Linked DNA regions of Homo sapiens. The protein of the gene in region 4 purifies or fractionates together with the protein of the main gene of each other region. This does not show direct contact. Each region holds a gene or a part of one and is shown on either strand. Other genes may lie near its edges.

Region 1 (3,500 bases), on a different chromosome or scaffold from region 4:
CCCACGAGGGCTGATGAATGGGTAGGTTATCGGCAGGCTCCTAGGCCACCAGCTTAGAGGTCACATTGTCCCTTTTAGATTCAGTGTGGCGGGAATCTAAAAGGTCAAGGATCGAGAAGCCTGCAGGATGGCAACGTGAGGGAACCTGGCAGTGCGACCTCAGGAATCCACTCCCGGAACTCTGACTGGGGTGCCTGTGGAGGCTCTGAAGGTACAGCAGCCAGGCGCTCTGTGGCATTCTGAATACTGGCACGCAGCCTTCGGCCTCTGCCAGCTTTTGTGAGCTGCCCTGCACCAGGCAGAGGGGGCCCCCAGGCCTGGCACAGGGTCTGACACATGGCAAATGCTACAGAAATAGCTGTGGACCGCCTGACTGCAAGATCGTATTGAACATCTGGTGCCGGGCCTCAGCCTGTGCTGCTGCAGCCAGGAGCAAATACGGGGAAGTCTGGCTAAGGAGAACGCGTGCCTGTGTGGGCCCCAAGGATCCATCTCCAGATCAGGAGGAACAAGCCCGATGACCTTGACAGGCAGCTCAGGAGGTTTCTGGCTCCTGCCCCAGAGGCCCAAGATGAGGACGTGGCAACATAGGGAGGCCCAGGGAATGATGAGCTCAGGGAGAGGTGGCCAGACCACCTGAGACACCTGTTAAAGTGCACTTTCCCATGCCCAGAACTGCGAGCTCCTGAGACCAGTTGCAGAAACCAGCATGTTTTACTGGCTCCCAGGCGGTTCTGATGGAGGATGTCCCAGGAGGGGACTCTGAGATGGGCTATTTGTAATCTACGGCAACTGCCTCACAACAGAGTGTGTTCGTGGAGAAGAGGAAACTGGGCACCGAGGGCTCAGAAGCAGATGGCAGATAATCAGGAATATGTGAAAAATTATGGCACCTCCATATATAATAAAATATTACAGACATTTCTAAGGGAAAAGGTAGGCTTCTGAGAAATGACACAGAGATTGCCTATGACATTAAGTGTACAAAACCAGGGAACGTTAACAGTACACACAGAACAAGCAATCACATCTTGTGACATACATGTTACAAACATACACATGTATAACATATATCCCTGTGTGCATATGTGCACAACTGATGGCTGGCAGATGGATCCCTAATCCATTGTCATCTGTTAGCCCTGAGCAGGTGGGAGAAAAGGGCAGGATGTTCTGGCCCTGAATTACATGCTCTGTATCCTTTTTTCTTTTCATGATAAGCACATGTTATGATTTACTATTATCCTATTTCATATTTGATGATATGAAAATTATTTTCCTTTCTCTAAGTATAACAGTATTATGGTTATACTTCAAAAGAGGCAATATTTTTCAGAGACAGTGATCGGAAAATGGAACCATCTGGGATTTGCTTCGAAACAATTCAGAGATGGGGGAGTGGGTGAGGATGAGAGGAACAAGACTATGTGAGTGGGAAACGGGGGGAGCTGCTGTTTTATTCCCTGCTCTTGGAATGTTGAAGAATTTAAAAAATGCTTTTAAAAAGATAGTTTCATTTTTGGAAAAGTAGGAAACAGCCTTAGGGGGAGATAAAGACTTGAAAAGCCCAGGCTCTCGGCAGAGAAGACAGCGGGGATAGGGGTGGGAGGGCTGGAGCCAGGCGTGAAGAGCTTGCTGGGCTCTGCCAGGATTGTTCTGGATCCTCTCCACCCAAACTAAAAGTCCTCCAACCCTCCAGGTTAAAAATGGGGGTTACAAGAGCTCTGCCACACAAATGGAGGGTTCCTGCTGCATTCATCAAGAAAAAAAAAAAAGTTGCTGCAAGACCCTCCCCCACCCACCCACACCTATCCGTCAAGCATCTAAGACAGAGGTCTCAGGACTAACAAGCTGATCATAAAAATGCCCCAGGATCCCACTTTGTTTGTGAACCACTGGTTCACAAAAGAGAACACACCCATGTTTATGTCAATGGCAATTTTGCAAAGCATGTTTCACAGGAAAGTTCAGATGTTTTGACTCACCAGGGAATTTCAAAATGCTTACCATGATCCGAGGTAAATGCAATGATGGTGCTGTTGGCCAGCTGAAGATCGTCCAAAGCACTCAAGAGGCGGCCGACCTGTGTATCCAAATATGACACAGAGGCAAAGTAGCTCTGGCGGATTTTCCGCTGCAAATTGAAAAAAAATAAAAATGAGAGTGACTGCAATTTAAATTGCCAAGGCATACAGAGATAATGCTTGCCTGTGCATCTCTCCCAATCCCTACCCCTTAGTTGATGCCCTTAATGATTTTCTCAGCCAAAATGTAACACTCCTTTCCCTACCATCAGCATCACTTCACCCACAGAGTCACAGCAAAATCTGTAGGTCTACAAATAAGATACATTTCTAAGCAAATCAGATTTCACTTTAGGGCACAGATCACAGTGGATGAATGTGTCACCTACTGCTCTGTTGTTTTAAGCTGAAATGTATTGTCTCCTAGCTCTGGAGGCTAGAAGTCCAAGATCAAGGTGCTGGGAGGGCCATTCTCTCCCTGAAGGCTCTAAGTAGAAGAATCTTGCCTCTCCCTAGCTGGTGGTGGTGGCTGTCAGTCCCTGGCATTCCTCAGCTTGCAGCTGTATCACTGTGTCTCCATCTTCATGTGTTCTTCCCGTGTCTCTCTCCCCTCTTCTTAAAGGACACCGATCATATTGGATTAGGAGCCCACCTTACTCCAATATGACCTGATCTTAACTAATTACATCTGCAATAAACCTATTTCCAAATATGGTTACATTCAGCAGTACTGGGGGGTTAGGATGTCAACAGCCCTTTTCAGGGAAAAAAAAATTCATAATTTAACACATAACAGCAACCCTGACTGAGCCTTTCCCTCTGATCACTTGCTAACCCAACAGCAGATTACAACTGCATATCTTCATGAACTATGGCCGTTACGTGGAGCTCATTTCTAACAAACTGTCAGCAGGCAGGAGAAGAGCAAAGGAGATACCAGAGAGCAGCACGTCCTTCACAGTCCCTGAACCCAAGAGGCACTTTGGGAACAGCCAGATCATGCCCTGAAGTAAATGAGCCACCGGCCCCTCCTGGGCTGACTCTCATTCCCAACCTGGTTCACAAATGCTAAGGACAAAAATTAATCTTCCACCCCAAAGAGGGGTGAGAAGAGAGCCGTGTCTTCGCAGACCAGCCCCTGACTTATCAGCTGGACCCACCAGCTTCTTCTCATCACTGCCAGGGTGAGGACAATCATGAGACTCACCCGTTCTCACTTGCAGTCAAGAGAAAAGATATACATCTAGCCTTCCAGCAGGATTATGCTGAGCCCTGGCCTACTTATACTTTCTGGTAGATGAAGTCTTCAGTCTGAAACCTGTGGAACTTTGGTCCTCCTGGGGATGAAAGACACCTGTCAGGATGGCTATGTCCTATACAAAGGTATTCCCTCCTTCCTATGCTAGCCCCTGGACGTAAGGCAATAAGCAGACAAGGTCCTCACCCTTGATGAGCCACCCCATCCAGTGAGGACAC
Region 2 (3,500 bases), about 47 Mb from region 4:
AATGGAAAACCCTTCCTGAATGGGGAAGATCTGAGGCTAAATCTGGATCCTGGGACTCTCATTCTTGCCCACCACCATCTCCCTGTGGCTGTCATTCTTCCCTGGAAGTGAATGAATACTGAGAACACAGTAAGAGGAGGGTGGTCACAGCTGACTTCACAAAGCCTCATGGAGGTTAAGTTGTTCAAGAATTTAAAAAGTAAACACCCCAAATCCTCCAAAATGGAATACTGTGGAAAATAACTGAAATTTCCACTGCTTAAGGCTTCATCCTATTAAGACAGCTGAGTACTTGGCCTGGCCCGATTTTCACCTTTCCTTTTACACCTCAAGAACAGCAGATAGGTATGCATAACCACAGCAGAACACACCCTCCACCTCTCTGACTGCTGACACTGGCTACAGGAATAAGGCTTTGGTTATCATCTAGCAAAATGCCACAGAGCATGGACGGACTGAGTTTGTTCTAAGGAAAGGAGTTTCACCAGATAGTCTGAAGAGGCCCAGCCCAGCAAAGAGATTTAGAGCAGGAAAGCCTTTCATTAAAGTAGCCACACACCCCTCGAGACAACCATAAAGACTTGACTAGGAAATCAAAAGGTTTTTATTAAACAAGACTTCCTCTGAGGCTATTCGAGCAAGCAGATTTGGCTATAAGTCAGATACGCAAGATTTCTGAACCATGTATAAATACGTTCTGCAGAATTTCGAAGTGTGCGTCCTTTGACTTTTCCAGGGATGCACCAGGGGCCAACCCGTTATGTAGACACGGTTACTGTTTTAGGACTGGGTGACATGGGGCCTGGGTAAAAAAATAAGGCCAAAACTGAGTAAGCTCAATTTATAGAGCAATATCAGTGCTGGACAGATCTGCCATGCTTCGTTTACATCATGTTTCCTACTTTTGATTTCTTCATCTTATTTATAGTCTTCCTCCCATCCCCTGAACACAAACTTGACTTTATCTTCTAACTAAGATCTTTCCACTCAAGGGGGCGTAGGAAAACAATTCCTGGATGCCTTTCTAACTAAAACCAGCAGGACTAAGTGCTCAAGATTTTATAATATTTCGATTTAGAGGTTTCTAGAGTTATTCCTGAGACGTGCCATAGCAGTAAATGAATTGGTGAATTGAGTAGAAGGTAGTTGTGACATCTACACCCAAATTCTTACTCTGGTGGCTTGAATAAAACTGGAGAAGCTCAAGGTAGGGCCCAGATAGAGGCCCAGGAAAGCAAATAAATGAAAGACGGTGGGGACACAGGAAGGATCCCAAAGACGGCAGCTCAGGGTCCTCCACGGAAGACTTGCTCAGGTTTCCTACTTACACATGACTCTGAGTGCCAGGGCAGAACAGGGAGTGGACCACACTGCTGTCACATGCCCGAAGGTTTTCCTACAGCATCAGACTCTGCCACGAAGCAAAGCATTTTCCACAAACTTCTCTCCATAGAGATATCTGGGGTAGCTAAGATCTACTGCAGGAGGAAGAAACGTGCTGCAGATGAAGACAACTCCTGACAAGGCCGAAGTCCCATTCTTCCCAGGCCAACACTTGCACAAACACCTGGTGGCGTGAATTCCCACAGTATTTCACCTGCCAGACGGCACTGTCTCCACACCCTGGAATGAGTTCTTTCCTGAGCAGGAGGGGCTCCAGGCCTTTTCGAATACAATACCGACAACTCCAGAAATGCAGGTGATTTACTGCCCTGGAGGAGAGGTTCCTATCCTCTCCTCTGGGAAGAAATTCAAACAAATATGAGAACTGGAATTAGCTCTCTAGCATGCTGGGGGGGTCACGTCAGTGACCTTTTTTCCTTTTTGGGTCAGAAGAGTGTTTTAATTACTCAAAGTTGTCAAAATGGTGGCAATACCTCAGTAGCTCAGCAGGAAGAAGACTAGGTAATTTTGTGGCCGTACAAGTCTGCCTAAGAGACAGAAGTGAGTTTTATAATCTACTTGGCCATTCCTCCCAGCAGAGAAGCAGCAGGTAGATATGGCATGCACTGTGCCTGCTGCTGCTGCTCTTGTGGCGAACACTCAGATGTGGAACCATAGAGGGACCTTGAGGAGCTGGGACATGATTCTTTAGAGAAGAGAAGAGACAGGGAGCACAGCATGAGAATGGCCAGTCAACCCATTTCAAATTCTTTTATTAAAGTGCCCCCCGAGGGGCCTTGCACAAAGATGATGGGGAGAGCAGAACTGCTGCTCCTTGACAGAACTCTGATCCTTACACTTTGTTTGGAGTGGGCTTGGGGACAGTCACAAGCCATGAAACATGAATCCAAAATGGTCCCCAGATGAGCCATGGTGAACCAACAGATGCAAGCAACTTCTTAAACTGCTCTATTAAACACTGCTTTATATGTGTCCCCATGATACAGAAAAGTGGGATGGGGCCAGCCATTCCAGAAATGAAAATCCAGACTCTCACAGAGAACCCTTGAGCCACACAGGAAGACCACTGAAGACAACAGAGGAACTACTGGTCCACAGAAACACTCAGTTTCATGAAAACACACTGATTCGGTTAGAAAATGCAACTTGGGAACAAACATTACACAACAAAGACCCTCTGTCATGCAGGGCACTGGCCCGGATGCTGCCTGGGCTGTGTGGGCTGGAGGAGGTGGGGACAACCCAGCCTGGGTGGGACTTGGACACAGAACTTCCTTAGCAGGGTGTTGGAAAGTCCCAGGCCTGTTCTGTGGAAGGGGAATAAAAAACAGATTCAAGGAATGTCAAAAACACGAAAAAAAAAAAAAAAAATCCCTGCCTCACTCCACCACTGCCATAAAAGAATAGAAACAGAGAAGAAAAAAAGAGAAGGGGGGCGGGGGGCAGACGGCAATCCCTGAAATAAACCTCAGGCTTCCTAGAAGGTGGGCACTTACTTACATTTTGAGGCATGACCCCCTACTTTCCAATGCAGCACTTTTTAACCCGTAGATAAGCTGGCAGCTTGACAGGCTGAAGAGTCCTCTGCCATTTACACCTGAAAATGGCTGCCCCAGCTACTCTAGATAAAATAAATATGACATATATACCCCAAATAGTCAATGGCCACCTCGGAGGCCTATGAAAGGAACTGAAATACAACAACACTTGGTAGCAGCCTTTGTGTTTTGCTCTTGTTGAGTTGACCTGTTACTAAAGAAGAAATGGAAACCAAAGGGTCATCTTGAAGCATAGTCTTTTGGCCATGAACTCCCCGCTTGGGCTGGGAAGAGACTGCATCACTTGGAACTCAGCTGGGGCACTTCCCAGTTCCGTCCTGCCAAGAGGCATCCCAGCTTTCTTCCCCTCTGTCCTCCCAATCCCCTGGGCCATTTTCATGACAGCTTGTTTCCATGTATTAAAGGAATGACATATACAGAAATGTCGTCTCCTGAGCCCAGTCGGTCATTAGATATCCGCCATCCTCTGTCCTTCAGCACACCCCGGGCACGCATCACCAGGTCCTGAGCTGCCAGTGTGTACCTACACAGGAGAAC
Region 3 (2,223 bases), on a different chromosome or scaffold from region 4:
GTATGGGTGAAGTAAGTCCAACAGACAGTGGCTCCAAGTCCTCCAGGACAACTAGGATTAATCTTTTTTTTTTTTTTTTTTCTGAGACAGAGCCTTGCTCTGTCACCCAGGCTGGAGTCCAGTGGCTGAATCTCGGCTCACTGCAACCTCCTCCTCCCAGGTTGAAGCAATCCTCCTGTCTCAGCCTTCCTAGTAGCTGGGATTATAGGCACACACCACCACACCTGGCTAATTTGTATATTTTTAGTGGAGACAGGATTTTACCATGTTGGCCAGGCTGGTCTCAAACTCCTAATCTCAGGTGATCTGCCTGCCTTGGACTCCCAAAGTGCTGGGATTGCAGGCGTGAGCCACCATGCCCAGCCTCAGGTATTTCTTTATAGCAGTGTGAGAATGGATTAATACAACTACTTATTCAGTTATTTTCCTAAGTTAGTTCTAAGATATAAAACAGATTTGCATTTAAAGTTTATTGAAAGCAGAGGCAATTCACACTAAGGAACCAATGCAACAAGACATTTTTATTTTTTTATCTCTCCAAATTTTTTGTCCTTTTAAAAACTGAGATATTTATCTTTAATTATTAGTTTGCATTTGTCCCTCTGCCAGCTTTAAGGCATAATCAACAAATAACCAATGTTGTTTTTAAATGTCTAACGTCTATAAAGCCCAATCCTGAGAACTCTACCATTGGAGTGCTCTGGTTAATTGGATTTCTGTTAATCACCAATCAGTTTTTTTGTTAAAAGGGACTTGTTCAAAACTTAACCAAACTTTAATTTACTTTCTTACTTCAGGAAAAAAAAAAATCTCCTGGGCACACTTCTATCCTGCTTTGGTGACACAGAAATCTAAGCATCCTAGGTTAGGATTTGGAGCATTAGGGAGCATGCTGAGGATGGAGGAGGAGCGGGAAAGTGAGCCGCAGGTGCACCGGCCGAGGCCTCAACTCTCAGAGGGCTTCTTCTTAACTTGTTCCAGGTGTGGTTAATGCTGTCTTGTAGATGAGTATTACTGTTATTCAGATTCCAGTTAACCAACATTTTTTTGACCGGCACTTTTGCAGCTCTTGAATCCTTAACTCAAGGGACAAAACTTTTAAACTGACTTCAGCCAGGTTTTTTTTACCACTGGGATAAATTTAGATTTTATTATGTGCACATACATCCTTTTAAAAAATATCACTCAGCTTTATATTTGTATCCCAAATATTTTTTCGCAGCTGTAGAATTCTCACCTTGGCTGTGCTTTTGAGAAGTGCTAATTCTACCATACAGTGTTGGCTGGGCAGCCACTTGAAATGATGGTTAGTATTTTTTCAATTCAATTTCTTTTCTGTTTTTTTTGTTTTGTTTTGTTTTGTTTTTTTTTGAGATAGAGTCTTGCTCTTGCTGCCCAGCCTGGAGTGCAATGTTGCGATCTTGGCTCACTACAACCTCCGCCTCCTGGGTTCAAGCAATTCTCCTGCCTCAGGCTCCCGGGTAACTGGGATTATAGATGTGCACCACCACACCGGGCTAATTTTTGTATTTTTAGTAGAGACGGGGTTTACAACATGTTGGCCAGGCTAGTCTTGAGCCCCTGACCTCATGATCCATCTGCCTTGGCCTCCCAAAGTGCTGGAATTGCAGGCATGAGCCACCGCACCTGGCCTGTTCAACTCAATTTCTAAGCCCATAGGTCTCCTTCAGGACTTGAAATAGCCAAGAGACCGAGCTCCCAAGATACGTGTGAGAAACTAAAGTGTGCAAGGACAAGAGAAGCCATAAGATGAATAGACTGTCTTGTTTCATTTATACTGCAATTACTAAAATGACATGCTTTGGGGACATTTGAAAAGTTGCCATCAAAATGTATGATTGAAGTTTTGAGCAACCAAAATAAGATTGAATGTAATAACATTCAAATGTGCACAGCAGTGCCTGCCAAACTCTGCTGCACATTAGAATCACCTGGGGAGCTTCTGAAATTCTAAATGGTCAAGCTGTTCTCATACCTGGGAGTGGGGATCAGAATGTCTATGGATGGGAATCAGGCATTAGTTTTTTAAAAGATCCCTAGATGATTCCAAAGTTCAGCAGAGTTTGGGAACCGATGGCATATGGTAGTGCAAGTTGAAGCAATTTGTACCATATTACTTAAAGGACTCAACTAAATTTACAGAATGCTTTAATTCACAGATGTCATGGATGTTTATGTTTAAAATGCTTCAACATTATGATA
Region 4 (3,500 bases):
CTAACCTTGGCAAAATAAACTTCTCAATTGATTGAGACCTGTCTCAGATACTTTTTGGTTTATACAACCAAAGATATCTGCCTGTTCAGGGGCTGTCTCAGTGAAATATCACCCTCGGCCCATATTCCTCCAACGGTCTACAGAGAGATGGGGGTACACAGAGGAAACCCATTCACAATCAATCAATCAAAAATTCCAGGGCCACATAATGAGAAACACTGTCCCGCCAGCCTCTGTTAGAGATTCACAATGCACTTTAGCATGTGTGATGGTTAATATTAAGTGTCAACTTTAGGATGCAAAGTACTGTTTCTGGGTGTGTCTTTGAGGGTGTTGCTAGAGGAGATTAACATTTGAGTCAGTGGACTGGGAGAGGAAGACCCATCCTCAATGTGGGTGCGCACCATCCAGTCATCCAGCTGCCAGCGCGGCTAGAAAAAGCAGGTGAAAGAAGGTGGAGTAAGCTGCCTTGCTGAGTCTTCTGGCTTTCATCTTTCTCACATGCTGGAAGCTTCCTGCCCTCAAACATCAGACTCCAGGTTCTTCGGCCTTTGGACTCTTGGACTCACGCCAGTGGTTTGCCAGGGGCCCTCAGGCCTTTGGCCACTGAAGGCTGCACTATTGGCTTCCCTACTTTTGAGGCTTTTAGACTCAGACCGAGCCACTACTGGCTTCCTTGCTCCTCAGCTTGCAGACAGCCTATCATGGGACTTCACCTTATGATCATGTGAGTCAATTCTCCTTAATAAAGTCCCTTTCATATATACATATATCCTACTAGTCCTGTCCCTCTGGAGAACGCTGACTAATACAGCATGCTACAGGTACTAAGAAGGTCTGCAATAAAGATGTTTATGAGATCTCATTTAACCCAGTGTTTCCCAAACTCATCTGACTATGGAATTTCCCCCCAGCTTGTCACTAACATTGCAAAAAACCCAGTCTAGGAAATCCTGAGTCAGTTAATCCCACTGAGAAAAACATAACTTGTCCTGGAAAAGATAGTAGCCTTTGAATGCTCTCGAAGAACAGACCTCTCTCTGCCCCACCCATACCTTCCCAGTTTGCCAAGTCACCGCTGCATCAGTTTGGTCACAAAATGTGAGCCTGCGGCTCCTAGGAGATTCACGAGAATCCAATCTCATTCTCCCTACATGACGTGCTATTTTTTGTGAAAGGAGTCACTCATTTTAGAATGACAAGGATGGACTCACCTTGGAGAGTTTAACAAATGTTTAAGGCATCAGTGCCCCCAACAGGCATTGGTTCCCATCATACAAACACCACCACCCCACTGGAAAATATCGCCACAAGCCCCGAGGAAAGAAGACAGCTGAAATTAACCATGAGCAAAATTAAGGAGCTACCTGATAAGTTATTTACCTGGACTCTCCTCCTTCCTCGATGTGTTTACAGTGGACGGAGTTCAGGGAGCTGATTCTGGTGTAGTCTTGGGGAGTCAGGTACAGGTATTTAAATCCCTTAAAAAATACTTTAGTGAGGCTACGAATCCAGTTCCCTGCACTGAAAGCCACTGTTTTTTTTTTCTTAATGTGAACATCGTAGGGATGGATGTTAATAACATGTTAGTAACATGTCAATGACACATTAACACATCTCATGTAAATACCGTATTAATAACAGCCATAAACTGAAGTTCTGCTTTGAGCTAAGCTCTCCTCTAAGGACTATCTCATTTTTATTTCTTATTGCCAGCACCCCAACATGAAATTTTAATTTTCAAGATACACTGTTTAACCACTATTTACATACTCTGTATATGTATATATGTTAAAAACTATTTTATTGCCACCCCAAAAATTATTTTTCTGTCTTCTTGGGGGTAGTGGGCAATATCGCCCCCGAGAATGCATGCTCTGAATGGAAAGGATGACTGTCCCCTGTCATTTCACATCACAGAATGCGTGCGCTTCCCTCATTCATCTTGCCTTTTATGGCAAGCTGGTATCTATACAACTCCCCAAAGATTTTTCTTTTTTTTTGAGATGGGGGGTCTCACTCAGTTGCCCAGTCTGGAGTGCAGTGGTATGATGATCATGGCTCACTGCAGCCTTGAACTCCTGGGCTCCAAGTGATCCTCCCACTTCAACTTCCCAAGTAGCTGAGGCTGACTACAGGCAGGCACCATCATGCTCACCTAGTTTTTTCATTAGTAGAGACGAAGTCTGGCTATGCTGCCTAGGTTACCTAGCTTGGTCATGAATTCCTGGCTTCAAGCTATCCTCCCACCCAAGCCTCCTGAGTTGCTGGGATGACAGGTGTGAGCCATAATTCTAAGAACGCTATGAGGCCAGGGAGTTGACACAATCACCTCTGCATTCTCAGTGCACACTGCATTCAGGAGCGCTCAGTGTATATCAGCTCAGGGTTTATAGACTTTTTTCATTATCCCCGTTAAGGAGCCTTTTTAGATCTTTTTTTTCTCATCACCATCCCCCCCGCCACAGTGAAATGTTAGTATCACTGATACACTGTATGCCTGTTTATACACTACATGTACATCTGTGCTTTATACATAAGTGAGATTTTTTTCACCTCTTGCAGGTGCTAGCACTCCCACTGAAAATACAGTAGTAGCTGAGCAGAATCACCCTGCCCCGCCAGTTTCACGACGTACTTTGTGGGGGTCTTCTGGGTCCACCCAAGCCACGTGGAACATGTGTTTGATCTCCTCTGCCATGCCAATACGGGCGCCACTGTTGGCTGCCACGTAAATTTTGGGAATGCCCTCTGCCCGGGCCATCTCGGATGCCCGCAGGTACAGAAGGTCCTCTCCAGGGCCAAAGGATCCAATGCGAAAGGTGATGTCATTGCCGATGACGATCACATCCCGTCCTTCCGGGTACTCCTGGGTCTTAAACCTCATTTTGAAGGCCACCATGCCCACCTGGCAAGGGGATGAATGCACAAGGAAAATGAGTTTGTTTCTTTGGGGGAAAACTTTTTATTTTATTTTAGTTATTATTATTTTTTTTAGATACAGGGTCTTGCTCTGTTGCGCAGGCCAGAGTGCAGTGGTGCAATCACAGCTCATTGCAGCCTCAACTTTCTGGGCTTAAGCAATCACTCCTGCCTCAGTCTCTCGAGTAGCTGGGACTATAGGAGCACACCACCACACACAGCTAATTTTAAAATTTTATGTAGAGACAGGTTCTCACCATGTAGCCCAGGCTGGTCTTGAACTTCTGACCTCAAGTGATCCACCCACCTTGGCCTCCCAAAGCACTGGGATTACAGGTGTGAGCTACTGCACCTGGCCCAAAAATATTTTTAAGGGGGTGACTCCAGCCAGGGGTTAGGCTCCGCTGAGCTATTACCTCATTTCCACCAGGAAGTCGGTTCATCTCCACCAGCTGGCCCTGAGAGTCCAACACTAATTCAGTGTATGTCAGGATGTCTTTGGGATACTTGTCTGGGGAGCCCCACAGTTTAAAGAGAGCCTGGGGAGAGAAGAGGAAAGAGAAAAAACTTGAAGTCAT

Evidence for each region. Proteins that work in one complex are often made in the same cells at the same time.
Region 1: the proteins of ACACB (region 4) and IDS purify together in Homo sapiens (affinity purification with mass spectrometry; one large-scale study listed by BioGRID and IntAct). This does not show direct contact.
Region 2: the proteins of ACACB (region 4) and PPM1H purify together in Homo sapiens (co-immunoprecipitation; one study listed by IntAct). This does not show direct contact.
Region 3: the proteins of ACACB (region 4) and GRK7 purify together in Homo sapiens (affinity purification with mass spectrometry; one large-scale study listed by BioGRID and IntAct). This does not show direct contact.

Annotation. Positions count from the first base shown.
Region 1 is NC_000023.11:149,488,307-149,491,806, forward strand, and holds part of IDS (iduronate 2-sulfatase isoform a preproprotein), read right to left. Parts: intron 3,362-3,500; exon of another isoform or gene 3,232-3,361; intron 2,135-3,231; coding exon 2,008-2,134; intron 1-2,007. UniProt on the Homo sapiens protein: Lysosomal enzyme involved in the degradation pathway of dermatan sulfate and heparan sulfate.
Region 2 is NC_000012.12:62,645,151-62,648,650, forward strand, and holds part of PPM1H (protein phosphatase 1H), read right to left. Parts: intron 3,487-3,500; coding exon 3,339-3,486; 3' UTR 1-3,338. UniProt on the Homo sapiens protein: Dephosphorylates CDKN1B at 'Thr-187', thus removing a signal for proteasomal degradation.
Region 3 is NC_000003.12:141,817,630-141,819,852, reverse strand, and holds the end of GRK7 (rhodopsin kinase GRK7), read right to left. Parts: 3' UTR 501-2,223; downstream 1-500. UniProt on the Homo sapiens protein: Retina-specific kinase involved in the shutoff of the photoresponse and adaptation to changing light conditions via cone opsin phosphorylation, including rhodopsin (RHO).
Region 4 is NC_000012.12:109,245,587-109,249,086, reverse strand, and holds part of ACACB (acetyl-CoA carboxylase 2), read right to left. Parts: intron 3,462-3,500; coding exon 3,339-3,461; intron 2,909-3,338; coding exon 2,639-2,908; intron 1,482-2,638; coding exon 1,384-1,481; intron 1-1,383. UniProt on the Homo sapiens protein: Mitochondrial enzyme that catalyzes the carboxylation of acetyl-CoA to malonyl-CoA and plays a central role in fatty acid metabolism.